Homo sapiens: one gene and its partners. The protein of the gene in region 1 interacts with the protein of each later gene in a pairwise test. Each region holds a gene or a part of one and is shown in the gene's direction. Other genes may lie near its edges.

Evidence for each region.
Region 2: the proteins of UBQLN1 (region 1) and MANBAL interact in binary tests that used the Homo sapiens proteins (3 or more experiments, as listed by UniProt).
Region 3: the proteins of UBQLN1 (region 1) and CD99L2 interact in binary tests that used the Homo sapiens proteins (3 or more experiments, as listed by UniProt).
Region 4: the proteins of UBQLN1 (region 1) and PCDH18 interact in binary tests that used the Homo sapiens proteins (3 or more experiments, as listed by UniProt).
Region 5: the proteins of UBQLN1 (region 1) and GABPB1 interact in binary tests that used the Homo sapiens proteins (3 or more experiments, as listed by UniProt).
Region 6: the proteins of UBQLN1 (region 1) and HSD17B12 interact in binary tests that used the Homo sapiens proteins (3 or more experiments, as listed by UniProt).
Region 7: the proteins of UBQLN1 (region 1) and CALU interact in binary tests that used the Homo sapiens proteins (3 or more experiments, as listed by UniProt).

What each region holds. Positions count from the first base shown.
Region 1 is NC_000009.12:83,697,549-83,701,747, reverse strand, and holds part of UBQLN1 (ubiquilin-1), read left to right. Parts: intron 1-4,199. UniProt on the Homo sapiens protein: Plays an important role in the regulation of different protein degradation mechanisms and pathways including ubiquitin-proteasome system (UPS), autophagy and endoplasmic reticulum-associated protein degradation (ERAD) pathway.
Region 2 is NC_000020.11:37,313,324-37,318,128, forward strand, and holds the end of MANBAL (protein MANBAL), read left to right. Parts: intron 1-2,984; coding exon 2,985-3,092; 3' UTR 3,093-3,937; downstream 3,938-4,805.
Region 3 is NC_000023.11:150,891,959-150,896,157, reverse strand, and holds part of CD99L2 (CD99 antigen-like protein 2 isoform 1 precursor), read left to right. Parts: intron 1-4,199. UniProt on the Homo sapiens protein: Plays a role in a late step of leukocyte extravasation helping cells to overcome the endothelial basement membrane. Acts at the same site as, but independently of, PECAM1.
Region 4 is NC_000004.12:137,525,859-137,530,057, reverse strand, and holds part of PCDH18 (protocadherin-18 isoform 1 precursor), read left to right. Parts: coding exon 1-456; intron 457-1,237; coding exon 1,238-1,326; intron 1,327-1,416; coding exon 1,417-1,580; intron 1,581-4,199. UniProt on the Homo sapiens protein: Potential calcium-dependent cell-adhesion protein.
Region 5 is NC_000015.10:50,306,274-50,310,472, reverse strand, and holds part of GABPB1 (GA-binding protein subunit beta-1 isoform beta 2), read left to right. Parts: intron 1-674; coding exon 675-782; intron 783-4,199.
Region 6 is NC_000011.10:43,809,159-43,813,357, forward strand, and holds part of HSD17B12 (very-long-chain 3-oxoacyl-CoA reductase), read left to right. Parts: intron 1-4,199. UniProt on the Homo sapiens protein: Catalyzes the second of the four reactions of the long-chain fatty acids elongation cycle. This endoplasmic reticulum-bound enzymatic process, allows the addition of two carbons to the chain of long- and very long-chain fatty acids/VLCFAs per cycle.
Region 7 is NC_000007.14:128,756,187-128,760,385, forward strand, and holds part of CALU (calumenin isoform a precursor), read left to right. Parts: intron 1-2,684; coding exon 2,685-2,851; intron 2,852-3,605; coding exon 3,606-3,666; intron 3,667-4,199. UniProt on the Homo sapiens protein: Involved in regulation of vitamin K-dependent carboxylation of multiple N-terminal glutamate residues. Seems to inhibit gamma-carboxylase GGCX. Binds 7 calcium ions with a low affinity.

The sequences.
Region 1 (4,199 bases):
TTTCTAAGGTGTCTGTACCATTTTACATTTCCACTAGCAATGCATGAGGATTCCGATAACCACATTCTCGGTAATACTTATTACTGTCTTTGTGATTATAGCCATCTTACTGGCTGTGAAATGGTATCTTACTGTGATTATTTTGCTTTTTATTTTCATTATTATTTTTGCTGGGGGCACTCTGAGGAAAACTGGACAGCCTGCTAGACAAATTTGCTTTTTGTTATCTGAGCAGTAGTTCTCACTGTGGTTTGGGGAGTCCCCATACCCTGTTAAGGGTACCATGAGATGAAACTATTTTCATAGTAATTCTGAGATGTTATTTTTATTTTTCAGTCTAATTTTCTCAAAACTGGGCAGTGCACTTGGCTAGAGTCTTTAAGGTGTGGGATATGACAACAGATGTGAAAATCCAGCTGTCTTCTATTACAAGACTAAAGTGATTTCCAAAAATTTAAAATAATGCCACTCTTATCACTGAGAAAATAGTTATTTTTCATAAGGATGTTATTTTTATTAATATATAATGTATTATTTTTAAATGAATTTATTTTTAAAGGTTATTCAGTTTTAATTTGTAATATTATAAATATCAACAGCTATAACCTAAACAAGCAAAACTCTTTGGAGTTCTGAAGTTGTAAAATGGTGTCCTGAGAGCAAAAATTTCTGTGGTGGCGTATTTTATAGATTACGTACTTAAAATATCGGGTAGTGGCTCCAATAAGTTGCCATTACCTCTTGCCTAGAAACTGCAGTAGCCTACTGGTCAGTTGCCTGACTTCTATAACTCTCCCACCAGCCATTCCAAGAGTGATCTCTGAAAAACGTTAATCAGAGCATGCCACCCTCTGTGTAAAGCTAATGGCTCCCTGTTGGTCTTAGAATATATAATGGAGTAGCGAGGCCCTGTGTAATACGGTTCCATGCCCTCTCCATTTTTTGCAGATGCCTTCTTTCTTTGCTTGCTTGGCTGACTACATTGACCTTCTAGTTCCCTGACCTGTTAATACTTTTTTTCCTGCCTGAGGACTTCTGTACAGTTTGTTCTTGCTACCTAGAATGCAAGAACACTCTTTGCCCATTCCTTTTCCATCTTTAAATCTTAATGCAAAGGTCAGTTTCTCCAGGTAGTATCTATTTCTGATTGTCCAGACTGGATTGGGATCCCCTGTTGGATTTCTCACAGTAGCCTGTTTTTGATAAGAATTCATCACAACTAAAAATTGTATATTTATGTGATTCCTTCTCTTTAGAGAGGGGCTGTGATTGTTCACCATTGTGTTACCAGAGCCTAGGGCTCAATAAATTATTTACAGATGAATCTAGTCCATTATGTACAATAATACATATTCAGTAATAACTACTTATTGTTGAACCTTTACTGAGTGTAGTATGTACATAATCTGGTAGCTCCCAGTCCTTTTGTGGAAGCTTCCTCTTAAGCTGTTCCCCCCAGGTCACCACTCTCCAGGCACAACTCTTGACTGCTTCATGATGTTCACTCTTGCTTCTCTGCCTGGAACATTACTCTTCTAGAACCACCTTTCTTAGCTGGAGATTCTCATCTGAACCACAGAGCACAGAAAGTGATATGAATAGCTATCCATTTCTTTTCAAAGATGGTTCATAATGAATATAATTTTAGATGTATAGGAGAGAAGTTAATTCATTACATAGTGAGTGGTTTGTTGGTAAATGCTGGTTTATCAACCCGTTCTTCAGGAAAAACACTGATTTGTAGTGTTTGCTGGATTTCCATGATGTAAATATTCTCACTGTGGCAGATTTCAAGATACCGTTATTAAACTGGCTCACAAAATTTATGAAAATTTAAGAGCCATTGCTTATAATGGGTGCCTTAGGGCAGAGGCCAGCAAACTGGTAGTCGAAATCTATTGTGCCCATTTGCTTATGTGTTATCTATAGCTCCTTTCAGAATAGACCATGTGGCTGGTAGAGCCAAAAATATTTACTGTCTAGCCCGTAACAGAAAGTTTGCTTACCCTGGTATTAGGGCTTCCTGTTAATATATCTTGTTCATCAAAACACTTCTCATTGGAAATTTTTACCATGACTTATTTTTTATAGAAATACAATGTGAGCTGGGCTCAGTGGTTCATGCTTGTAATCCCAACACTTTGCGGGGCCAAGGTGGCAGGATTGCTTGAGCACCATGGCTCAGTGATCATGGCTCACTGCAGCCCCCACCTCCTGGAGTTCGAGACCAGCCTGTCTACAAAAAAATAAAAATTTAGCTAGGTGTGGTGGCACACACCTGTAGTCCCAGCTAGTCCAGCAAGGTTGAGCCCAGGAGTTTGGAGGTTACACTGAGCTATGATTGCACCGCAGCATTCCAGCTGTGGTGACAGAATGAGACTTGGTCTCTTAAAAACAAAAAACAGTATGAGCCACATATGTAATTTTCCTATTAGCCACTTTAATCAAAAGGAAGGACTGAAGTCAATTTTTCAATAGTGGTGACTCACACATAACAAAATTTATCATGTTAACCATTTTTAAGGGTTCACTTCAGTGACATTAAGTACATTCACATTGTTGTACAATTGTTACCACCATCCGTTTCCAGAACTCATCTTGCAAAACTGAAACCCTGGACCGTTTAAACAGTAACTCCCCATTTTCCCCATTCCCCCACCTCTAGCAACCACCATTCTTCTTTCTGTCTCTGAATTTGACTACTCTAGGTATTTCATATAAGTGGAATAAGACAGTGTTTGGCCTTTTGTGATTAACTTATTTCCCTTAGTATAACGTCCACAAGGTTCATTTATGTTGTAGCATGTGTCAGAATTTACTTTTTTTTTTTTTTTTGAGACAGGTCTCACTTTGTCACCCAGGCTGGAGTGCAGTGGCACAATCATGGCTTGCTGCAGCCTCCACCTCCTGAAGTTCAAGTGATCCTCCTGCCTTAGCCCCCCAAGTAGCTGGGACTGCAAGCTCACATCACCATGCTTGGCTACTTTGTATTTTTTTGTAGAGACAGGGTTTCACCATGTTGCCCAGGTTGGTCTCAAACTCCTGAGCTCAAGCGATCTGCCCCCTTGGTCTCCCAAAATGCTAGGATTATACAAGTGTGAGCCACCGCACCCAGCCAGAATTTACTGTGTATGACTGAATAATATTCCATTATATGTATGTACCACATTTTAAAAATCCATTGATCTGTTGCTGGTCGCTTGGGTTGCTTCCACCTTTTGGCTATTGTAATTTTAATATGCTTTATTTAACCCAGTATGTCTAAAATATTTTAAGGTGCAATTGATATAAAGACTATAAAATATCTTGCATTTTGAAATACTAAGTCTTTGAAATATATTTTGTAATTTACACTTAAGCATACCTCAGTTTGAAGTAGCCACATTTCAGGTGCTTAATAGCCATATGTAGCTAGTGACTGCTGAATTAGCACAGCTAATAAAGCTTTCAGGATGTGCTTCCACCTGCCTTTTCTCCTGTTTTCATTGCATTTCAGCCAGTTTGTATTGTCTCTTCCCCTACCCTCAAATATCACTGGCTCTTTCTTCCCCTTTTTGAACCTTTGCAAATGCTGTTAATGACAATGACATAATGGCCAATATTTATTGCAGGCATGATTTATAAGGCATGATGCATTATATTTTTTTAAAATGTCACATAACTTTATGATGAAAGCACTATTATTATCCTTTTTTTAAAAAATGAAGATGCTGGCCAGGCATGGTGGCTCATGCTGCTAATCCCGGCACTCTGGGAGGCCGAGGCGGGTGGATCACATGAGGTCAGGAGTTTGAGACCAGCCTGACCAACATGGAGAAACCCCGTCTCTACTAAAGATACAAGATTTGCCAGGTGTGGTGGTGCATGCCTGTAATCCCCAGCTACTCGGAAGGCTGAGGCGGGAGAATCGCTTGAACCTGGGAGGTGGAGGTTGCAGTGAGCTGAATCGTGCCATCGCACTCCAGCCTGTGGGATAAGAGTGAGACTTCGTCTCAAAAAAAAAAAAAAAAAAAAGGGTACAAAAAATAGCCGCGTGTGGTGGTGCATGCCTGTAGTCCCAGCTACTTGGGAAGCTGAGGTGGAAGAATCTCTTGAATCTGCGAGGCAGAGGTTGCAGTGAGCTGAGATCTTGCCACTGCAGTCCAGCCTGGGCGACAGAGGGAAACTGTCTTTTTTTTTTTTTTTTTTTTTTTTTTGAG
Region 2 (4,805 bases), on another chromosome or scaffold:
TCGAGCCACTGCACTCCAGCCTGGGCGACAGAGCGAGACTCCGTCTCAAAAAAAAACAAAGAAAACATGTAACTATGGGAAAATAATAGTGGCATTATGGGCTGGGCGCAGTGGCTCACGCCTGTAATCCCAGCACTGTGGGAGGCTGAGGCGGGTGGATCACTGGAGGTTAGGAGTTTGAGACCAGCTTGGCCAACATGATAAAACCCCATCTCTACTAAAAATATAAAAAATTAGCTGTGCGTGGTGGCGGGTGCCTGTAATTCTAGCTACTCAGGAGGCTGAGGCAGGAGAATCACTTGAACCTGGAAGGCGGAGGTTGCAATGAGCTAATATCGAGCCACTGCACTCCAGCCTGGGCAAAAGAGTGAGACCTTGTCTTAAAAAGAATGGTGGCATTATAAGGTTCCTGGGTGCCTAGGGGCCCGAGGAGGGAGGAGGGGCTGCCCCCAGCTGGAAGGAGGAGCAGGGAAGGAAGGCTAGACAGTGAGTAGGAGTGTATTCATGGACAGGGCCAAACCATGGGAGCAGTTTGCCGGGTGGCCAAGGAAACAGGTATTCCTGTTGATGAAGGTGACCAGCGGAAGCTCTGGGGCCTGACTCAGTGTGAGGGATGAAGAGGAGCCCATGTGAGGCTGGAGAGGTGGCCTTTCTTAGATGCCATTCCAGAGACAGCCACTGGAAGCTTTAAGGTGGAAGGTGCAGTGGTCAGACCTGCACTTTAGAATAGTTCCTTTCGTGGGTGCATGAGGAATGGACAGAGACAGCAGGCACTTTGCTTAGCTGTGGGCGGAACTGAAGGGGGAATTGGATGCTGGAGAGAGTAGCAGAATCAAGAGGTAGAGGGGGTCATGTCAGCAGGACATGGTGACCCACTGGACAGTGGGGAGCAGAGAGAGGGTGAGGTTACCGGGTCTCTGGTTGCTCCACCAGTGGGAGGAGGGCCGGGCCTTCTGGGTCTGGGACAGTTAAGTTGGAGGTGCCTTGGAGATGCCAGTCCTGATTGTCTGGCAGACAGCTGGATCAAGGGAGAGGTCTGGGAGGTGCCAGAATGGTTGAGGCTCTAGAGACAGGGCCTGTGGAGTGAGGGAGGCACTGGGGCGGCAACTGGGTCTCACTGTCCCTGTGGTCTCTGAACTGAGCCCCACTGAAACTGGAGGAGCCCCCAGCCTTGAGCTCAGAAGGCAGACTCCTTCCTAGAGATCCAGGCAGGCCTTGCAAATTTTGTTTTGTTTTGTTTTGGCCAAGTTACATAAACAGAGTAGGGGGACCTTCAGATCATTTTGATTTTTGGTGGGAGGAGGCTCAGCAGGCCGAAGGAATCCAGCACTGCAGTGAGAGGCCTGGCTGGGGAGGGGAAGCCCTCCAGTTATCTTGGGACAATCACTCCTTGGGGGCCTGGGACCTGGCTGGCTCTTCATATCTGGTTATCTCGCCTGGCTGATGGGAGACGATGTTGGCCGATAGGAGGGAGCTGACAGGCCTCTGGATCAGATCCGAGGCAGGGACTGCCCTTCCCTGCATGGGCCCTCCTCTTCTGTAGGGTGGGCTGAGGCTTGGGCCACGGGCCAATGGGGCAAGCAGGGAAGGTCAGGGAGTAAAGTGAGCTGGAAGCCGGGGTTGGGAAATGAAACACAGAGGGGTATTTTTCTCATCTGGAAGTGTCCCCCCTCCCAGGAGTCTTAGTCTGCTTCTTATTTTCCCATTTCTCAATAAAGAACATGGGCACTGAGAAACATTTCCCAATCATAGTGCTGGGGGCGGCAGGGTGTGGGGGCCACGGTCGGCACCTGAAAAGGGGCAGCGCCTCCTCAGCCCCTCACTGCCATGAGGGAATGCAGGGCCATTGTCACCGGATGGTTAGTTTCAAGAGAATCTAGGAATCCAGATTTCATGGGAAATCTCCCAATTGGCTTAAATTTTTAAATAAACACTGCCGGCCAGATGAAGTCTGTGGCCTGGACGAGGCCTGTGGGCTGTGGTTGGCGTTCTCTGGGCTAGCCCGGCCTCTCTGACGTCCGTCCTTTCTGGCCACGGCACACTGCAAGTTATCACCCAGAGGAGGAGAGGACACTAGATAGGAGCACACTGAGCCTATTCCAGATACTTCTCTGACATGAGCCTGAGTGGCTGGGCCAAGCTGTGTCCCTTCCCTGGAGTCTCCCTTCCTTATCAGCACAATGAACGCCAGGGCTAGATCTGTGGGTTTCAACCTTTCGTTCCTTAGCAGCAGAACTTTGTTTCATTTCAATCTTACAAGGGACAAATCACAGTGTATGAAATAGATTGAAAATCAGAGCTGCTCCTGTCGCCCAGGGAGTCTGGAATTCTGCCCCGAGGCTGCCTCTGCCCTCCCCCACAGAGGCACCTCTGACAGGCTCCGCAGAACACAGTGTGGGACTGCCCACCTGCCGGCTGGCCCTCTGCACCCCTCCCAGTCCTGGCATTCTGTGGGTTGAATGGGAGGACAAGAATGGCAGCCAGAGGAGGGCAAGCCACAGTGGGTCTGCCCCATAGCCAGCTCCTCGCCCACATTTTGTCCAGTCCCTGGCACGAGGTGATCGGCCAGTCACTGGGTGCAGCTGGCACTTCCTGGGTGCTTTCCACGTAGTTTTGCCTCCTCACATCAGCCCTGTAAGGCGGGTGTGGCTATTTCCATTTCACAGGTGAGTAAACCAAGACACAGAAAGGGGAAGTGAGTTTCACACAAGGTCAGTTGGCTGGAAAGGGAAGGATCCCAGGTTCTACCTGGGCGTCTGAGACCCCACAAGCTGCTCCCTCCCCGTGGGGCTTCCTTTATTCTTCACTGAGAGCCACGATGCTCCGGGGCAGTCCCACATCCGTGTGGGTGGTAGGTCCCGGGAATGACAGTTTCCATCTCTTGTGTTTCTGTGGCATGCTTCTTTGCTTTCAGATGTGATCTCCTTTTGCTGGCGTCAGGCTTGATCCATCTAAGCAGGACTCTCCTTTTTATCACCTCACAGGAGGCTGAACCGTCTGAGCCCAGAAGTGCTGAGGTGACGAGGAAGCCCAAGGCTGCTGTTCCTTCTGTGAACAAGAGGCCCAAGAAAGAGACTAAGAAGAAGCGGTAGAAGAGGAGGCCTGAGGAGCTGGGCGGGCAGGGAGAGGGTCTTGGGGACAGCCCTCCTGGGAATCTACATTGTGTTCCCCCGCATTCCAGGCTCAGGGTCTGAGGAGGCTGTGACGCCCTATGACCGCAGAGATCTAGACAGTCGTAACAGTCCCCAGGCTCCAGCTGGGCAATCCACCACTTCCTCTTCCTTCTGCTTCTGTGACGGTTTAGAGTCAAGGGGGCTGAAACACACTGTGAGCATAGACTGTATTAGGTTTGTTCAGAAGCCGGGTCAGCTCACAGAGTCACATTTTCTTGCTTAGTCATGTGTCCCTCCTTGAGTTGCCCCCTCCTTGTGGGTTTACACTACATTTGGGAGTCATTGTCTAATGCTGACAAGCACACCCTCTCCCATTATTTGTGCACTACAGATCTCCTCCTGATCAGTCACCTTTGTTGCTGCTGTGTAGACAGAGCCAGGCCTCACCTGTTTGTTTAGGCCAAGATGCCATGGACATGCAGCGTTAGTGATCCCACTAGCTGTGACAGCCAGGCCCAGAAAATGCCTGGCGTGAGAGCCAGCAGACAGCCAGGCCAGGGTAGGCAGTGCCTGCTTCTGCTCCATCAGGTGCAGGGGATTTGGCTGAAGGCGTGCATATTTCCTGGGCACAAACTTCCTGAGCCTCTGAAATGGGAGGCTCGTCAATTTCAGACCAACCTCTTTTCAACCCATCATAGCACGTTCAAGGTGTGCCTTTTACTTCTACCTGTACATCCCCCATCCCTTCAATTCTTTCATTCCCTGACCAGTGAGAGGGTTCCTGGGGGAAGTATGGTGAATAAACTGACATGCATGCTTCAGAACCTGCCTGTGTTGTCTTTTGCTGAGGGAGAGGGGAAGCCTAGGGCCCTGCCCCGGGGATGAGGGAAAGGCTTGACCCCCAGAGAAGTGGGACAGTGGGGGTGAGGATGGCCAGAATAGGATGGCTTCGGTAAGAGCAGTTCTGCAGGCTGAGCCATTCTGGAAGAAGTTTTCAGGAAGGATCCGGCTAAGTGCTTCGTGTGGCCCTTAGTCACTGGAAACACTTGTGAATGGCCGTGGGTGTGTTAGAGTTTCCACTGGGTCCAGGCCCCACTCATTCCCCAGGTTCCTTCTGAGGAAGATGCTGCTTGTCTTCAAAGTGGCTTGAGAAAAACCAAGTGCAATACAGTAAAAGGCCTTACGTGGCATTGGCCAGGTCTAGTCACTTGCCCTGAATCAGCTGCTGAGGAAAAGCCCTGACCTCTTGGTAACTCGGATTTGCCCAGCTCATTTACAGCCTGCCAGACAGCTTTCCCAAATGCCAGGACTGATGAGGATCTTAAGAGATGAGCGACTATCATCTCTGTTTTGGAGATGGGAAACTGAAGTCCAGACTACTTTGAGAATGTCCAAGCTGGGATTTAGACCCAGCCCACGGCACATTCCTTGGTATTTAACAGGTATTTAGCGAGTGTTGGTAGGCACAGTGCTATGAGGGTCCTGCTCTGCTGCAGAGGGGCTTGGCAAGATCTCCCAGCACTTCAGGTTTCAGGAGAGGAAGTCCAGGGGCTGGGGATTGTGCATAATGAAGGGCTAGATACTGGCTTGAGAAGGAGCTTCTGCGGATTGTTTCTGTTTCATAACACTTACCGAGAGCTTCAATGCCAGGCACCATGCTAGGAACTGAGGATGCAGAAATAAGGAACCTTC
Region 3 (4,199 bases), on another chromosome or scaffold:
AAAGTTCTGGGATTACAGGCGTGAGCCACCACGCCCAGCTTATTGTTTAAATTAATTAACTGAAACCAGAAGCAGCTTTGGTTTCAAGATAAGGGCCCAGTTTTCTGGATCTTTTTTTTTTTTTTTTTTTTGGAAACAGAGTCTTGCTATGTCGCCCAGACTAGAGTGCAGTGGCGCGATCTCGGCTCACTACAAGCTCCACCTCCTGGGTTCACGCCATTCTCCTGCGTCAACCTCCTGAGTAGCTGGGACTACAGGCGCCAGCCACCACACCGGCTAACTTTTTGTATTTTTAGTACAGACAGAGTTTCACCATGTTAGCCAGGATGGTCTCTATCCCGTGACCTCATGATCCACCTGCCTCGGCCTCCCAAAGTGCTGGGATTACAGGTGTGAGCCACCGTGCCCAGCCAACAGTTTTCTGGATCTTTTGTCCAAAATAAGATAATACGATTTTTGCATTGGTGGTCTTCTCTGGGATCCTGGTAGTCTCAGAGCTGCTGCGTCAAAATGACAAACACAAAGCAAGTGCCTCAGTTAGGCACCAGTTGGCTCTTCTTGGGCCCTGGAGTGGCATTTTGGGTAGGCCTGCTGAGAGCCACTTTATTCTTGGTCCTGGTCCTCAGTAGTGGGATGTGGCTGAGTAACCCTGGCAGACCTCAGAAAGCACACAGAAGCAACTCTGCATAATCTGAGAAATCCTTCCAGGCTCTAGCAAGTAGCAAGTAGAGGCTGGCTTTAGGCTCCCAGGAGTTTAAAGGGCGGTTAACAAGTTATCTTTGTTCTAATTACAGAGGGCTTTTCAGTCTGCTGTGTATTTTACTAGTTCCAAAAAGTCCTCTGAGGACAGGTATGCTGCCTGTATGTGCCTCCAGAAATGGGAAGCTGTTCTTTTGAGCAGCAAGGAGAAGACTGTCAGTGATGTGGATGGGTAGTAATCTTAACAGGAGCTTCATTTCTGGAACACCTATATGCCAGGCCCTCTGCCTCGCCACATTACCCCGACCTGTTGGCACTGTGACCCATATCACCTCCTGATGTCCATAGTGGCCCTTTTACATAGAGTCTTACAGGTAACTGTTTGGTAACCCACTTCTCAGATGAAAAATATGGGGCCCAGAGAGGTTTAGGAACTTAACACTTAGCTGAATTGGATTTGAACTCAGGTTTACCTGCATAACCAGAGCAGAAGGCATGAACACAGATACCTTCAGGGATCATGCAGGTAATAGGAATGTGAGAAGTGGTCAAGAATAAGCATGATGAGGGGGCCGGGCGCAGTGGCTCATGCCTGTAATCTCAGCACTTTGGGAGGCTGAGGTGGCCAGATTACTTGAGCTCAGGAGTTCGAGACCAGCCTGGGTAACATAACAAGAGCCCCATCTCTACAAAAAATACAAAAATTAGCCAGGCGTGGTGGCATGCGCCTGTAGTCCCAGCTACTCGGGAGGCTGAGGTGGGAGGATTGCTTGAGCCTGGGAGGCAGAGGTTGCAATGAGCCAAGATCGCACCACTGCACTTCAGCCTGGGTGACAGAGTGAGACCCTGTCTTAAAACACACACACACACACACACACACACACACAAAACAAAAGAATAAAAGAATAAACTTGATGAGCATGTTGGCAAGCCACCAAGTGCCTGCTCCCTTAAAGAGAGGTCCAGCTTACACATGGAGTGTAGGCTTTAAAGCGTACCTGCCCAGTGCTGCTATGACTCTGTCCCATTTGCCTAACTGCTCGGTGCTACGGTTTCCTCATCTGTGAAATAGGGATAACAACACTATCTACCTCATGGGGTGGTTATTAGGATTAAATGAGTAGAAACGTATAAAGCATTTAGCACGGCACCTGGCTCCAAGTGAGCAAGACATTCCAAGCCACATTTTAAAAATATGTGATGCAAACCTTGAAAGGCATCATTTATACAAAATGTCCAGAGTTGGCAAATCCATAGAGACAGAAAGTAGATTAGTGGTTGCCAGCAGCTGGGATGAAGGGGGATGGGGAGTGTCTGCTTAATGGGCAAGGGGTTTCTGTTTGGGATGATGACAATGTTCTGGAACTAGATAGAGTTTATGATTGCAAAATATGTGAATGTACTAAAAACCATGAATTGTACACTTTAAAAAGGCTGAATTGTGGCCAGGCGCAGTGGCTCATGCCTGTAAACCCAGCTCGTTGGGAGGCTGAGGCGGGTGGATCAGCTGAGGTCAGGAGTTTGATACCAGCCTGGCCAACATGGTGAAACCCCGTCTCTACTAAAAATACAAAAATTAGCTGGGCATGGTGGTACACGCTTGTAGTCCCAGCTACTCGGGAGGCTAAAGCATGAGAATCTCTTGAATCCGGGAGGCAGAGGCTGCAGTAAGCTTAGATCATGCCACTGCACTCCAGTCTGGGCGACAGAGCGAGACTCTGTCTCAAAACAAAAAAAAGGGCTGAGTTGTATGGGAACTGCATCTTCATTTAAAAATTCACTATGTACTGACTTGTACACTTTAAAAGGGTGAATTGTATAGGAATTACATTGCCATTAAAAAAAATTCACTGTATAGTCCAAGCAGAATAAGTGTGAGAAGTGGCAACATGTTACCCCTGGATTGGGGTTGTTTTCAAGGTCCTTGAACTTGGTTCGGGGGGCGTAAGAGCAGAGTGGGCCCCGTGTGCTGGCAGTGCTGAGATGCCAGGCTGGGATCCAAGCAGAAGCCTCATGGGCTGACTTGGGGTATTGGGCTGAGCCAGATGGGCCACAAAGCATCTGCAGAGTTGGCCCAGAGATGCTTAACCCTGCCTGCCCGAGTTCAGGAGTGGTCCCTGGAACAGTGGCATGATAGGGAGAGGGAGAACTTCCCTTTCCTAGATGGCTCCAGGGTTGCCCTTATGGGCACTAGTCAGTTGCTGCGCTCGTCTGACAGAAAGTCTGGGGACTCTGCCTGTTAGTCTTACCTGCTTTGACTGGTTTTCAGCCTTTTCCTTGCTGTCATAGGTCACATCCCTATCCCTTCCATTATTTTGGACACAGGGTATCTCAAATGTGTTGTTTGTTTCTTTGTTTTTTTTTGAGATGGGAGTGCAATAGTGCGATCTCACTGCAACCTCCACCTCCCAGGTTCAAGCGATTCTCCTGCCTCAGCCTACTGAGTAGCTGGGATTACAGGAGTCCGCCATCACACCCGGCTAATTTTTTTGTATTTTTAGTAGAGACGGGGTTTCGCCATGTTGGCCAGGCTGGTCTCAAACTCCTGACCTCGGGTGTTCCACCTGCCTTGGCCTCCCAAAGTGCTGGGATTACAGGCGTGAACCACCGCGCCCAGCTTGTGTTTGTTTTTAAACACGTGCACAGAAACCATCCAGGAGTCAGCATCAGTAGGCATTGAGGAAGGGCCTGAAGTTGCCTTCAGTGGAGATGATGCTGATTAGGCCCATTTTGTCTGCTCAGAAGGGAGTGTTGGGAGGAGCTGGGTTTCATTCTTGTGAGTTTAGGAGAGATACCTTCCAGATACGTCGACTTTCCTGTTCTGTTCTTTTTTTTTTTTTTTTTTTTTTTTTTGAGACAGAGTCTCGCTCTGTCGCCCAGGTTGGAGTGCAGTGGCGCGATCTCGGCTCACTGCAAGCTCCGCCTCCCGGGTTCACGCCATTCTCCTGCCTCAGCCTCCCTAGTAGCTGGGACTACAGGTGCCTGTCACCACACCTGGCTAATTTTTTGTATTTGTAGTAGAGGCGAGGTTTCACCGTGTTAGCCAGGATGGTCTCAATCTCCTGACCTCGTGATCCGCCTGCCTCGGCCTCCCAAAGTGCTGGGATTACAGGCGTGAGCCACCGTGCCCGGCCTCCTGTTCTGTTCTTTTCCCCACCTGGTGTTTTGCTTTTTCTGCTGTGTGTTCACTCTTAGGTGGGTTTATTTATTTATTTATTTTTATTATTTTTTTCCTTCGAGATGGAGTTTCAGTCTTGTTGCCCAGGCTGGAGTGCAATGGCGCGATCTTGGCTCACTGCAACCTCTGCCTCCTGGGTTCAAGCAATTCTCCTGCCTCAGCCTCCCGAGTAGCTGGAACTACAGGCATGTGCCACCACACCCGGCTAATTTTTTGTATTTTTAGTAGAGATGGGGTTTCTCCATGTTGGTCAGGCTGGTCTCCAACTCTCGACCTCAGGTGATCCACCTGCCTCAGCCTCCCAAAGTGCTGGGATTACCCA
Region 4 (4,199 bases), on another chromosome or scaffold:
GAATATGCAGAGTCGGTGACAAGTACAGCAATGACTTCAGTAAGCCAGGCATCCTTGGATGTCTCCATGATAATAATTATTTCCTTAGGAGCAATTTGTGCAGTGTTGCTGGTTATTATGGTGCTATTTGCAACTAGGTGTAACCGCGAGAAGAAAGACACTAGATCCTATAACTGCAGGGTGGCCGAATCAACTTACCAGCACCACCCAAAAAGGCCATCCCGGCAGATTCACAAAGGGGACATCACATTGGTGCCTACCATAAATGGCACTCTGCCCATCAGATCTCATCACAGATCGTCTCCATCTTCATCTCCTACCTTAGAAAGAGGGCAGATGGGCAGCCGGCAGAGTCACAACAGTCACCAGTCACTCAACAGTTTGGTGACAATCTCATCAAACCACGTGCCAGAGAATTTCTCATTAGAACTCACCCACGCCACTCCTGCTGTTGAGGTAAGATCATAAACCGCATCAATTCATTGCAATGTTAGGTGTTAGTGTTCAGGAATTGTGTTTACTAGTTCTTAAATGTTTTCATTAATAAGTAACAATACTAATACTGTGCAAATTAAGTAGGATACAAGTTACATTGTGAATATGTAGCAAAGATGCACACTTTAGCATACTGTTTTTAGTTTTCCTTAAGTAAATAACTTCATATAATATGTGTAATATTGAAAAATAAATGTGAAGGTCACAAAGGACTATGTAATTAGAGTCCCCTTGCTTCCCAGATTAAAATAATGGGAAGCCAAAAAGTAGAGACTTGCTTTATTTTCAAGGTTATAGTCTTTACTGAACAAATAAAAAAACTGAGGCCTTCAGACTTCTATTTCAATGCATGCTATGTTTGTCCAAGTTTGGAAGATTTCCTGACATTTTTTAAACTACATGCATTGCAGTGTTGTATTTTACAGTATTTTCCATGTATTTTTACAGGTGGTCACTTTGTCTGAATTATAAAGAAAATAAATCAGTTATTTGAAAGGGAGTCTTCTTTCACAAAGTAAAAGTCAGTTGTATTAGGTCATCCAAATCTCTCTGAGATATATTTTAGTTATAGTTGGTAGCTGGCTGCGTGGTCCGCCACAGTCCAGCATTTGCAAATCTTTTAAATAGAGAGAATATATTCAATTACTTAGTTGAAATAGCAAGCAACTGTTTTTCTTGCTTAAAGATTGTGAGTGTTTGGAGGCTTGTTTCCGGGAATCAGTTCTGTCTATTTGGTTTCCAGCAGGTCTCTCAGCTTCTTTCAATGCTTCACCAGGGGCAATATCAGCCAAGACCAAGTTTTCGAGGAAACAAATATTCCAGGAGCTACAGGTATGAATTATTCTTGTGTTACCTATTAAGTTTCAACATAAATGCTGAAGAGTAAAAACTGTAATTTTTTTTTGTGATTTATCTTTCCAGATATGCCCTTCAAGACATGGACAAATTTAGCTTGAAAGACAGTGGCCGTGGTGACAGTGAGGCAGGAGACAGTGATTATGATTTGGGGCGAGATTCTCCAATAGATAGGCTGTTGGGTGAAGGATTCAGCGACCTGTTTCTCACAGATGGAAGAATTCCAGCAGGTAAGAGGGTAGTGATAGAAAATCTTTATTTTCAGGTCTACCGTGACACCAGTAAAATGAAAAATTTCTCTCATGCTTATATTTCTTCTTTATTTGTCCCTTGCACTAAAGTATTTATAATATGTTTTATAGTATGTTCATCACTGTTTAGTAATGAACAGAAACTGAAACATTTTAACACTGTTTTCTTAAATTTCATTAAGCGGTTGGAAGAGAACGAGTAAGCATGACAGCTTCATAGGACAAGAAGAAAGGGGTGGGGAAAAATCAAAAAAACAAACACTTTCCCCCTCTTTCCACCTCATCCGATACAGCCATAGAACACGGTTGTGTAACTCTTTGCAAAATTATTGGGTGGTGGTTTTTATTCAGTTAAACTGTTTTGGCGCAGAGTGGTGAACCGGACTGTAATTTGGAGGATGCATTTCCTGTGATGGGCACCAACTCACAAAATCAGAGACTAAAATACACTGGAAATTGTACACTTCAAGCATTAAAAATAGGAGAAGGAATGCATCTTTGTAGGTGGTAAGCACAGAATATTTTTGCCAACATTTCATTTTGCTATAGTAGAAGAGGCACAGGGACCCAAGAGTGGAATTTTTAAGTACACAGCTAGATAGAAGAGATGCTATTAAGTTTCGAACCACGTTTTCCTTGGAGTTCCTTCCCTCTAATTCTGCAATAGGAACTCTCTGAACTGACTAAATACTGATTATATTATCCTAGCAGCCCCACTACTAAAGACTGCAATATTAAATCAACCTTAGGAATACGTGTGTTCTTTTGGCTACCTATATTTCCAAGTTTCACTGAATGTGGATCATTGACTGCCATTTGATATATGAAAGATAGAACAACACAATATCACCCATCTTAGTTTCATCGCACCTCTATTTTTGAATACAGATAAGTAAGAGAGTTTAGGAAATAAACATGAGGGAGCCTCAGACAGCTACAGGAATTCAAGAAAATCAATATAGCTGACATTCCGTATCAGCAGGTTCCACATCCATAGATTCAACCAACTGTTAATTGAAAGTATTTGGATTAAACAATAAAAAATAGCAATACAACAATAAAAAACAATACAAATAAAAAACAATACAGTATAACAACTATTTACATAGCATTTACATTTATTAGGTATTTTTAGTAACCTAGAGAAGATTTAAAGTATTTGGGAGGATGTGCGTAGGCTGTATATAACTGCCATACCACTTTATATAAGCAACCCAATTTTGATATCCACAGGGGGCCTGGACCAATCCCCTTTGGATACCAAAGGACCACTGTGAATAGAAACTCGAGCACTCATAAGTGAAGTAGTGATGGCAGTAGCCAGAGCGGTATTAATATTAGGAATAGTAGTAGCAATAGTAGTTACCAACTATGCCCCCAGGTTTACTCCAGGCTCATGCAGAGTTTGATACCTGCACTGCCTCTCCTAAGGCTTTGGCAGGAATTAGTAGTAGTGACAGTAGTAACAGGCTTCTATTTTTTTTTTTTTTTTTTTTTTAAGATTTGGAAACTGAAAGTTATAAAGGTTAGAAAATGCATCTCAAATCAGGCAGTTTGTACATGGGAGAGTGAGATTTGGACCAATCCCTGCACTCTTAAACACTAATCTATCAAGTATGTGAAGTAACAGGTTTTTGTTGTGGTAGTAATTGTTTTTAAGTAGAGTGTCCTCATTGTTCTTATGTTCTAAAGACTTATGACATACCCCATAACTATTAAATGTTGATTATTTAATTCTGTTATCACAGTAATAGATGCTATAATATATCTCACAGGATGAACGTATGGGGGGGACTTCGAGAGACAATAAGGCATGCCGTGTACCTGAGAGCCTGTTTGCACAGTCATGGTGTCTGTTTTTTGTTTTTGTTTTTAATGCATAGACTTTCTTGACCAATTTGAAGAGAAATCTCTGAAAATTTAGTGGAATATATTTAGAATCAGACACTTTGCTCAAAGAGAATCAGTTTTCTTATTCGTACTTGTGTAATAAAGGAGTTGGCTAAACTACAATTCTGTGATCCTGACAGAACCCTAATTTTGAGTATTAATCCTTGATTTTAAATAATGTAATTTCATTTCATTAAACAGAAAAGTAACATAGTGGGCATGACATCAATATTGTATTATATATTTTTAGATTTGTATAATGTTTATTCATTGAAATTTAAATTTATCAGCATACTTAACTGAATAGCTGCTCTAATTACATAACCTTGGTATTTTGGGGATTAAATGATCCTAAAGTCCCTTTTAATTCTGAAATTGTAGAAATCTAATAGCTAATTATAAAGTTTTTTTTAGGTCAAAGTTCTTTTACTTTTTCTTATATTTTCTAAGTTGCCACCTCCACGTAAGTTTGTGGCAAGAAAGTTTTCTAGCACTTGGAGTAAATAATAATAATAATAATTACAATAATAATAATAGATGTTAAGGAATAAAGACACTGGCGAAACAATAGGTAGACATAGATAAACTGTAGAAAACTGAATTGTGTTTAGTGAGTGACGTTAAGCTTCATCAGTATCACATTTCTTTTCAAAATTAGGAGTTCACCTTTATATCATCATTAATAATTCCACTTAACATGAGACAATT
Region 5 (4,199 bases), on another chromosome or scaffold:
TTACTTTTATGAAAAATTTTATTGCTGCAAACCCTCCAGTAAAAACAATTAGTTGCCAGTTTTAAATTTTAGACCAGCTTGGCTGGGTGGGGTGGCTCATGCCTGTAATCCCATCACTTTGGGAGGCCAAGGCGGGCAGATCATTTGAGGTCAGGAGTTTGAGACCAGCCTGGCTAACATGGTGAAACCCTGTCTCTACTGAAAATAGAAAAATTAGCTGGGTGTGGTGGTGCATGCCTGTAGTCCAAGCTACTTGGGAGGCTGAGGCAGGAGAATCACATGAACCCAGGAGGCGGAGGTTGCAGTGAGCCAACATCGTGCCACTGCACTCCAGCCTGGGTGACAGGCCGAGACTCTGTGTCAAGAAAAAAATAAATAAATAAAAATTTAGGCCAGCTTTTCTCTGCTACTTACCTCTTCTATCTTTTACCAGATGTATTTGGAGAATTTAAACTACTTTTATTCTAAGTAAAAACTTAATGAGAAAGGAAAATGGATTCTAAAATCCAAATATAAATTGCTTTTGTATGATCTGTAATTTTAAATTAACCATAGCACACTCTTTTGAAGGGATAATTGAGAACTGACTTATTAATAAAGACAGGAAGGGAAAATGTCATGTCATAGTGTATAAATGGAGATTTTGATGTTCAGTTCATCTATGTTTTGTTTAGATGTCCCTGGTAGATTTGGGAAAGAAGCTTTTAGAAGCGGCACGAGCAGGTCAAGATGATGAAGTTCGTATTTTGATGGCAAATGGAGCTCCCTTTACTACAGACTGGGTAAAGAATGATTTTAATATTGTGTGTTCTTTTTCCTTCTCATTTTTGAGTTTTTGCAGAGAAAAATGTAGTCAGTATTGTGTTTATAAGTGGTAAAAAGTTATTATTTTTGCAAATGTGTTTATTATTTTAGAATTATAACTGTCCTAAAAGAAGTGGTTTATATTATTTTCTTTGATATTGGACAACCTTATCCAAATATTTCATCCACAAAGAGTTTTTCTTTCAAACTGTGGAGTGCATTAATGTGGCATGAATATAAAAATGTATCTGCTTGGGATTTAATTTAAAGGCCTTATAAATAGCACAGGTAGAATTTATAATTCAGAAAGATACTGATAAAGATTGGAGTTAGTGTTAATAGTCACTCCTAAAAGAAAAACAAGTTTATGTTTCAATTATTACTTGTAAAACTGTTGCAGACATGACGAAAGAGGAAGAAAGGAATGGGAATGAGATCTTGACAACTATGGAAAGAAGGTAGTTGTGGGGAAGGCAAAAAAAAATAACTCTTTAATTCTGGGGGCAAATAAAAAAGTATTGTCTTGTGGATATGGAATGCTAGGAATCTGAATTAACCTGCCCATTGGTAACAACTAAAAATTCCAGATTTTTGATTTTGCCGTTTTTGCCTTTCTTTCTCTTTTTACATTTTTCATGAAAAAACAAAATTTTTTATTATAGAAAATTTCAAATATATATCAACGATATCCCTGTAATACCCTTTACCCAACTTCAAAAATTATCAAATCATGATGAATATTGTTTCCTCTATAACTCTGTCTACTGTATTATTTTTTGTTCTGTATTATTTTAAAGCAAATTCCAGGGACCATATCATTTTATCCATAAATGTTTCTTTAAAGAATAAATAAATCTTTAAAGAATAAAGACTTTTTGATGAAATATTTTAAAGAAAGTCTTCTTAAGTACACTGCTGAATTAGAAAGAAAGAGATTATCAACCTGAAAAACTAAGTGAAGGCAAGAACCCAGAGAAATTTTACCCTAAAGAACATTAGGTGAACTCACACTTGTCTGGTGGTTTTTCCACCTCACTGGCTTGGGGTACTAAAGCTAAAGACCTGAGAGTGTTCATGGAGAGAAGTCTGATAGGAGATCTTATCTCATAATTCTGGAATCCCAAAGAGCTGCACCTTCAGTGTAGGGATAAAGCAGGAATACCCTGTCCCTCCTCCTGTCTGCTCCTGCCCTTGCCCCTGTTGCCGTGATGCTGCAAAGATAATAAGCTGATGTGAACCAAGACATCAAATGGAGAGAGGAAAACAATCTGATGGTGAGAATTTGGAATCACAAGGCATCCTTTTTACACACTTGCAGCCTGAACTCATAAATACTTGTGTAGTCTAAAAAACTGTAAACTGAGAAATGAATTTGAAGTGATCTTTGGACTAGGGATTACCCCAGGCTCTTGACAGAAGCAAATGAATATCTGCTCTGGAGGAACCTGCCTTCATCCCAGGCTTCATATCCACAAATGAAATTCAAAGGAAAGTGAGCAGTCAGAAATAACTAAACACATGAACACATGCCAATTTGGACAGTAATCTGCTAAAACAACTGTCAACAGAAGCAGACCTATAAGGACTTGAGATAAAATTTTAGTAACAGATTAGAAACAGCTAAAGAGAAAATTAGTAAACTGAAAGGTATGAAAAAAAAAATGATCCAGACTATGTCACAGATAAAAATAGATAGAAAATGTAAAAGAGATGTTAGGAATCATGAAGGATCATGTGAGAAAGTCTAACATCTGATCATAGATCCACAAAAAGAGCAAAAATAGGGATGAAATAATTCAAAGAGGTAATTGCTGAGAATTTTCCAGAACTGATGAAAGATGGCAGCCCACAGATTTGAGTAGCCTAACAAATCTCCAGCAGGATCAATTTAAAAACTAATCTATATCTAGATATATCATAGTGATGCTGTAGTACCTCAAGACAAAAAGATCTTTTTTTTTTTTTTTGAGATGGAGTCTCACACTGTTGCCTGGGCTGGAGTGCAATGGTTCAGTCTCGGCTCACTGCAACCTCCGCCTGCCGGGTTCAAGTGATTCTCCTGCCTCAGCCTCCCAAGTAGCTGAGATTACAGGCACCCACCACCAAGCCCAGCTAATGTTTTGTATTTTTAGTAGAGATGGGGTTTCAATATGTTGGCCAGCTGGTCTTGAACTCCTGACCCCGTGATCAGCCCGCCTCGGCCTCCCAAAGACAGAAAGATCTTAAGAAGGATTAGTATCCATAATACATAAGGAATTCCCATGGGTTAGCAATAAAAAGACAAGGCAATAGAAGACTGACTGGATATGGTGCTTTACCAAGGAGAAAGTTTGATCAATAAACATGAAAAGATACTCAACTACATTAAAATTGGGGCAAATGCAAAGTAAAATCATGAAATACTATTATATATCCACCAGATTAGCAAAAACAGTTGAGCAGTACCAAGGCTTGGTGAGGAGATGGTGGGAACTCTCAAATATTTTTGGTGGAAGTATGGAATTGGTATAATCGTTATGGAAGACAGTTTGGCAGCACATAGTAAATTTGGAGATGTGCATAGTATATGATGTAGCAGTTGGGCTTCTAAGACTATTCCCGAGAGAAGACTTGTTCATGTGCCTGAAACATATACAAGACTACTGTATTTAGCAGCAACATTATTCATAATAACACAAAAACTGGAAACAATCTAAATGTTCATCAGTAGATTGGTTAAATTAATTGTGGTTTACTCATTCAATGGAATATTATAGAACACAGAAAATTAGTAAGCTATACTTACAGTTATTAACATGGTGAATCTCATGAATACAGTGTCAAGCAAAAGAAGGCAAGTCACAGAGAAATACATGCAGTATAATTCTGTTTAAATAAAACTCAAAACAGGCAAAACCAAAGTATATTTTTTAGGGATAAGTGATACAAAGAAAACTAAGTAATGCTTGTCACAAAATTCAAAATATTAGTTACCTCTGGGGCTGGGGGAGGGGCTTGTGATCAGGGAGTGGCATGTGGGAAGATTTTTTTTTTTTTTTTTTTGAGACAGAGTTTCGCTCTGTTGCCCAGGCTGGAGTGCAGTGGCATGATCTTGGCTCACTGAAGCCTCTGCCTCCCGGGTTCAAGTGATTCTCCTGCCTCAGGCACCGAAGTAGCTGGGATAACAGGCGCCCACCCTCACACCCAGCTAATTTTTTATTTTTAGTAGATGAGGTTTCACCATGTTGGCCAGGCTGGTCTCGAACTCCTGACCTCAGGCAATCCACCTGCCTTGGCCACCCAAAGTGTTGGGATTACAGGCGTGAGCCACTGCGCCTGGCCAGATTTTAAATTACTGGCAGTGTTTTATTTCTAGACTATGGTGTTGATTCACAGGTGTTTGCCTTAAACTACAT
Region 6 (4,199 bases), on another chromosome or scaffold:
ATTTTTGTTGAATAAATGACCATACAACAATAACAACTCTTCCTCTTCCATTTATTAACATATTACTACGTCCCAGGCATTGGGTTAAAGATTTTATGTATATGATCTCATTTAATTCTTAAATTACTATCCCCATTTTATGTCAAAGGACAATGAGGCAATCACTAGTTTCTTGTTAGGAGCTGGTAGTAGTGGAGCTGGGACTGAAACCTGGTTCTGTTAGGACTCTGGGGTCTGTATTCTTTTAGCTCAAAAATTTAAGACAGGAAGTTTCCCCCACTTTTGGTATATACACTGTTACTAAAGTATACATTTTAAAAATTCAGTTTATTTTGAAATATAGTGAGGTAGCAGCATTTTTTAAAATCTCCTTTTATTGGCCAGGCGTGATGGCTCACACCTGTAATCCCAGCACTTTGGGAGGCCAAGGCAGGCGGATCACCTGAGGTCAGGAGTTCAAGACCAGCCTGACCAACATGGAGAAACCCCGTCTCTACTAAAACTACAAAAAATTAGCCGGTCGTGGTGGCGCATGCCTGTAATCCCAGCTACTCAGTAGGCTGAGGCAGGAGAATCGCTTGAACCCAGGAGACGGATTGCAGTGAGCTGAGATCGAGCCATTGCACTCCAGCCTGGGCAACATGAGCGAAATTCTGTCTCAAAATAAGTAAATAAATAAGCAAATAAATAAATAAGATGTCTTTTTATTAACTCTAAGTGCTGGAACTGGATTAGCATTTATAACCACAAATGTTAGTGAAATATAAACTTTTTCTCCTTTGATACAATGAGAAGGAAACAGGAGGGGTTACTTTGCATTATTTGATGTATGTCGGGAAGCCCGGCCATTAGGCAACATATTTTTAAACCACCTTAATTTCCTATATCTCTGATTAATCTGGAAAAAGAAACAGGTTGAAGGTGATCTGTAGGGGGTTACCCGTATCTGTTAGAATTGTTTGTTCAAATGGATTTTTAATTTCTAGTAATTTATTGTTGTTTGCTCCTCTCTCACGCCTAACCCAGATACCAAAAATCTAATTTTCTGATGACATCATTATATCTCTATAGCAGCTGGCTTTGAGAGAGGATTCTAAGTTCAGTGAGATCAGCAGCAAACGAACTTAGAAGAAACAGAAATCTTGTAAATATTCTTTTTTTAAGAGCATAAAATTTGGAAATGATTTTAAAGCAGTATAATTTAGAAATTATATATATATATATATATATATATATATATATATAAAATTCAGAATTATTCCGTGGATTTTCTGTGTCTTTAAAATGCAACACATAATGATATTAGTGTTTTCTGAGGTTCTGGATGGGGGCCGAGGAGAGCGTAGCTAAGCATGGCCTATGTCAGTTCTTCTCTGCAAGGATCAACTCTTAAGAGGATGGCTCCTCTGCCCTCCACCACCTTTTCTTTCCACTTCCTTTGGCATTATTCTTGGTCTGTTTTCACCTCTGTTCTCTGCCTGCCTCATCTCTTTTATTGAGCGCTTCCCAGTCTTAGACCTCTAGTCAGAAACCAATGGGAAAGATTTTGTTACTGTCCAGCACCCTACAGTGACTGGGATGGTGGTGGGAATTCCATGATGACATAGATATCTGTTGTTTCCTGAGAGACATCATGTGTTGTTACACAATAAAAAGGTTTTTCACTGAAAAAAATGTTTAAATCTGTCTCTAGTGCCTCACTTCAAGAATTCAAGAAAACTCACTAATAAACATGTTTAATGCTAATTTAAGATGCGACCATTTAGAAGGGATCTTCAACTATCTGAATAATGTTGGAGCAACATGTGCCATTGTTTGGTTTGGCGAATCCTATAATGAATCCTGTAATATGTAAAGATGGCATTGCGTGCACCCATTCTTAATGAGATTATATTATAATGGGAGTATTTCCATCCTTCACTCCTACTCAAAGCCTGTTCTTTCTCTTCCTTTTGCAATTCCCTGAAAGCTTTCTGCCTGCTGTTAGGTTATTGCTGCCACCTGACGTCTCAAAATAAAATTGCCGTGGGTTTGCTTTTCCAAAAGATTCGCACTATTCTGCATTTTATGGAAATAACTATTTGAGAGCAACAGTTTTTTCTCTATACTCCTAAATAAGAGCATTCTGAAGTGATTACTTATGGTGGGGAGATTATGGGTATCATTCATTCCACAAGCAAAAGGTGGAACTAATAGTACAGGAGGGAATGTAGGAGTCCTAATCCCTAGAATAGGACAAATCGCCATTGTGACCTTGGTGTGTACTTCACCTCATAAAATTGGACTCAGTGCTCTTAACAGCCTTATTCCAGCTTTAACATTGTTTTATTGTGTGTACTTTTATTTATGAAAACATAGCCCTTCTCCGTGATACTATTTACTTTTTTGGACTAAAGTTCTCAGTGTTGAACAGGTTTTCTCTCTTTTTTTTAACAGATACATAATATTTCTACATATTTATAGGATACATGTGATATTTTATTACATGCATAGGATGTGTAATGATCATGTCAGGGTGGCTGAAGTATCTGTCACTTTGAGTATCATTTCTATGTGTTGGGAACATTAAAAGACCTCTCTTCTAGCCATTTTGAAATATACAATACATTGTTGTTAACTATAGTCACCCTACTCTGCTATTGAACATTAGAACTTATTCCTTCTATCTAACTATATGTACCCACTAACCATCCTCTCTTCATCCCTCACCCACCCACACACACCTGCCCCACCTTCTGGTATCTATTATTCTACTCTCTACCTCCATGAGACCAACTTTTTTAGCTCCTACATATGAATGAGAACATGCAATATTTGTCTTTCTGTGCCTGGCTTATCTCACTTAACACAGTGACCTCCAGTTCCATCCATGTTGCTATAAATTACAGGATTTTATTCTTTTCATGGCCAAATAGTATTTTATTGTGTATATATACTAAATTTTTCTTTATCTATTTATTTGTTGATGGACACTTAAGTCAATTCCTTATCTTTGCTATTGTGAATGATGCTGCAATAAACACGGGGGTGCAGGTATCTATTTGATATACTGATTTATTTTCCTTTGGATAAATACTAGTAGTGGGATTGTTGGATCATGTGATAGTTCTATTTTTAATATTTTGAGAAACCTCCATACTGTTTTCCACAGTGGCTATACTAATTTACATTCCCACCAACAGTGGATAAGAATTCTGCTTTCTCTGCGTCCTTGCCAGCATCTGTTATTTTTTGGCTTTTTAATAACAGCTACTCTAACTGGGGTAAGATGATATCTCATTGTCATTTTGATTCAGATTTCTGTGATGATTGGTGATGAGCATTTTTTCATTTATCTGCTGGCCATTTGTATGTCTTCTTTTGAGAAATATCTATCCATATCCTCAGCCCACTTTTTAATAAGTTTTCTTGTTTTTTAAACTATTCAGTTGTTTGAGTTCTTTGTATATTCTAGATATTAGTCTCTTGTCAGATGGATAGTTTGCAAATATATTCTTCCATTCAACAGGTAGTCTCTTCACTCTGTTGATTATTTCCTTTGCTGTGCAGATGCTTTTTGGTTGAATATGTTTTCTTATAGAGCTATGTTAAATAGATGTTCACATTTTCATTGTGTGAATAAATAGCTTTGATAGCTTTCCTTTGCTCAATTATCAGAGACACAGCTGAAGACTCTCTATTGTTTGTTTTTGTTTTTGTTTGAGACAGAGTCTCCCTCTGTCACCCATGCTGGAGTGCAGTGGCGTGATCTCGGCTCACTGCAACCTTCGCCTCCTGGGTTCAAGCAATTCTCCTACCTCAGCCTCCCGAGTAGCTGGGACTACAGGCACGTGCCATCGTGCCTGGCTAATTTTTTGTATTTTTAGTAGAGATGGGGTTTCACCGTGTTAGCCAGGATGATCTAGATCTCCTGACCTCGTGATCCGCCTGCCTCAGTCTCCCAAAGTGCTGGGATTACAGGCGTGAGCCACCACGCCTGGCAACTCTCTATTGTTAATACAGTCATAACCAGAATAACACTTCTCTGCTTGCTTAGTTATTCAGGGACTTCCTTTGCTTAACTTTGTACTTATAGTACATGTAAAGATTACAAAGTCAACTGTGCTGCTTGCAAAGTTCCTAGATTTTTTTTAAAAAAAATGAAATCTGGATTTTAAAAGATTTATAATTACACTGTTCAATTTTCCTTTGCATTTTGA
Region 7 (4,199 bases), on another chromosome or scaffold:
ATACAAAGCAAAGAGTAGGCTATTGGTGATCTAAACAAAATGGTGTGTAAATAAATCTCAGCTCCGACCTAGGCACTCACTTGCTGCCCAGAATGATTCTTCGGTGCTGTGTATGATTATGTGCATAAAAATCTGTTGAGAGCTCTGTTGCCTCACAAGGCAGATGATTCAACGTAATGGGTATTTCTGCTGCCTGAGACTGCATAAGCTGAAGCACTGGCTGGGAAGCAATGTCTTTATAAGGCATCTTTCCCCAGAGGCATGAGGGTGGACAGCACTGAGGGGGTCATGAGTCGGCTTAGAGAAGTGAGGAGTTTTTGTTACTGTGTGTTCTTGATTCAATTTGGAGTTCAGGTATAAATCATCATAGCTCTTAGTTAAAATCTGTCTCAATGAATCCGCTATCCATGAGAGAAAGGTTAACACTGTCTCTGCCACAAGGAAAATATGAAATACTGAGATCTACCCTGCCTATAGCAAAACTAGATCAAGAGCCTACCTAAAGCTGTATACAGGCCAGCTAGGGCCAAAACTGGTGCTTAGGATAAATACAGCATTCCAAGCAGAGCTATAGGAAAATAGGTTTTGTCATTAAAAATAAAGTTTTGGACAGGCACAGTGGCTTATGCCTATAATCCTAGCATTTTGGGAGGCCGAGGCAGAAAGGTTGCTTGAGTCCGGGAATTCGCGACCAGCCAGGGCAACAAAGCCAGACCCCGTCTTTACAAAAAAAATATTAAAAATTAGCCAGGAGTGGTAATACTTGTCAGTAGTCCTAGCTACTTGGGAGGCCGAAGCAGGAGGATTGCTTGAGCCCCAGAGTCCAAGACTGCATTGAGCTATGATTGCATTGCACTCCAGCCTGGGCCACACAGAACAAGGACCTGACTATAAATTAAAAAAAAAAAAAATTGTATCTTCCTGTTTCCCTCCTTATATATATATGTGCATGTTGCTATTAGGCTATTTGAGTCCAGTCACCATTTTTACCTTTTACCCCAAGGAGGGGAGGAGAGCACTTATGTAAGAATCTAGTCTTAAAGTATAAGTTGTCTTGTTATGTTTCTTATTTATGTTACATAGTCCTGAAACCTTGTTTAGAAGAGACACTTTAGTATCTGAGAAAGGCTTGTTTGCCTTACGTTCTCCATCTCAACCTATTATGGCTTTGAGTGTGTGTGTGTGTGTGTGTGTGTGTGTGTGTGTACACAGGATCCCAAAGCCTTATGACTCGTTAAGCTGTCTGACTGAATTTTTGACACTCAATAAAAAATGAAGCTTCAAAATGCTCAACTCTCAAAATAGTACAGTAGTTTTGTTTTTGTTTCTTTAAACTGTGCTTAAAGTATGGAAAGACTGAACAATCTCAAAGGTCAGCAGTAATGATGTTATTCTTAAAGGGGCCCTGTGGGTCTTTTTTATAAAAGCAGTGTCATATCCTTTTTATGTAATCAATATGTTGCAGGAACAATAATTTCTTACCATTAATGTGGTGTCTTTTACTTTTTAAAATATCTTCATGTCTGTTATCTTAATTTGGTTTATACAGGAACGCAGATTGAAAAAGAATTTTATTTTCTGCAGTTAACGCCACATTTTTTCAGCTTAAAAAACTAAATTTCACTTTTCTATATTCTTATATAGAGACTAGATAACTGCTGCTTGTGTAGCTCGATGTCATAACAGATGGGTAGTTCCAAATTCAATTTGGTTGTAATCTAAGGGTTTTTTTTTTTGTATACCTTTGTCAAGTTATTATTGACATAAAGTGAACTGTATGTATTTAAGTGCATAATTGATGAGTTTTGACGTATGTATTTACCAGTGAAACCACCACTGCAATCACGATAATGAGCATATCCATTACCCCCCCAACATTTCCTCATGTCCCTTGGTAATCCTTCTCATTCTCGCCATTCCCCCGTCCCTAGGCAATCACTCATCTGTTTTCTGTGACTCTAAGTTAGTTTGCATTTTCTAGAATTTTACGTAAATGGGGATGAACAATACCTGTCACTCTTGGTAGATTTCTGCGTTGACTGAAAAAAAACAGAATGTGACCTTCAAAGTGGTGGCATTCTATTGCTTGAATCCAAGTGTCCATTATGTGAGGTAGAAGGCCTTTGATTTCTATCTTTTTAATGAGATCCTAATGTTTAATAAAAGTAGCAATAACTGACATTTGTTGAAAGCCAACTATGTGCCAGGCATTGTTCTAAGCACTTAGATATATTTTCTCATTTAAACCTTACAACAATCCTATGAAGCCGGCACCATTGCTAGCTCCATTTTACAGATAAAAGAGACCAAGACACAGGCCAAACAGCTAGAAAATGGTAGAGTTCAAACTCAGGCAGTATGGGACTTGAGAGCCACCACTGCCTTCCAGATGTAACTAGAAAATTCAAGCCTTCTAGTAGCCTTAATACCAATAGTGAAGCATAACAGTGAGTTACATAGTTCAGGAGCCAGAGTTCCATGTGAACTTGGAGCTGACTCTGAGATCTGATGCCTGGAGCTGTAGCCCAAAACTAAATGTCTTTGTACTGCTGCAGTTTTACCTGTGTCATCAATTATTTCTTCCTTGCATGGTTTTATCTTTATTGGAAATTGATTTCCCACCCCACACATTTTCATGTTTTCTGAAAGTCTTTTAAGATTTGACCTAAATTTTTGTTTTCTAGATGATCCAGATCCTGATGATGGATTTAACTATAAACAGATGATGGTTAGAGATGAGCGGAGGTTTAAAATGGCAGACAAGGATGGAGACCTCATTGCCACCAAGGAGGAGTTCACAGCTTTCCTGCACCCTGAGGAGTATGACTACATGAAAGATATAGTAGTACAGGTGGGTGAGATGAAGGATTCTGAACAGGGACTCAGTTTCTCTTTTTGTGGCTTATTCTGTCTTTCCCCTTTAGCCTTATATAGCATATCTTATATATATATATGCTATATAGCATATCACTGTATATGCTATATAAGTATTGGCCAGATTCAGAATCCAAGGTCTGTCACTGTTTTTCTGTGACCTTGATCAAGGTGCCTTGGGCATTCTGTTTAGTATGATAATACCTTCTGTCATATAATGTATTTTGCCATTTCATTGGTAGCTTCATATTGTAAGAATGGGGGGAAATCCCATTATTTAAAATATCCCATGACCAATAGTCAGACATTGAGTAATAACAGTGATACTAAAGAACTCTCACAGAAGGCAGTTACTGACAACATAGACTATCTATAGCTAAACACATAATCACTGGTCACATCTCCTGTTAGTGTGACTTTAGCATGACTAAGGCTACCAGGTAGATCATCATGGGCTTGATGGGATAGTTTGTCATTAAGCAGTGTCAGTGTTCTGTCAGGAAGACTCAGTTATTTTAGATTGAAGCATAGGAAATTGCTCATGTTTTACCATTTCTTGGCTAGAAATGGTTTTAACCATACAGACACACATGCATACATACATACATACATACATACATGTACAAGTGTGTTTAATGAATAATAAATGTTTACCTAAACTAGATACTTTACTTTCTTCTGGCAAATTCAGAGACCAACTTAATAGTCTCTTCTTATTCTTTCCTGTTTAGGAAACAATGGAAGATATAGATAAGAATGCTGATGGTTTCATTGATCTAGAAGAGTATATTGGTAAGTCTCTGCTTTTAGTGTTTTTCTTAGAAAAGCTGAGAAGCTTTGAAAGGTGTATTTGCTGGCTGGGCACAGTGGCTCATGCCTGTAATCCCAACACTGGGAGGCCGAGGCGGGCAGATCACCTGAGGTCAGGAGTCCAAGTCCAGCCTGGCCAACATGGGGAAACCCCGTCTCTACTAAAAATACAAAAAAATTAGTTGGGTGTGGTGGCGGGCGCCTGTAATCCCAGCTACTCAGGAGGCTGAGGCAGAAGAATCGCTTGAACCCAGGAGGCGGAGGTTGCAGTGAGCCGAGAACACGCCATTGCACTCCAGCCTGGGCAACAAGAGTGAAACTGTCTCAAAAAAAGAAAGAAAGAAAGATGTATTTGCCCATAGAAACAATTTACTCCAAGGGTCAATTCTCACTAGCTCATTAGCTGTCACCAGATCATTAACCAGACCAGTGTGATAGTGGGTTGTGATAAAGTATCCGTAGCCACATTGCCCAATCAAAATATAAATGTGAGCCCCATATGTAATTTTAACTTT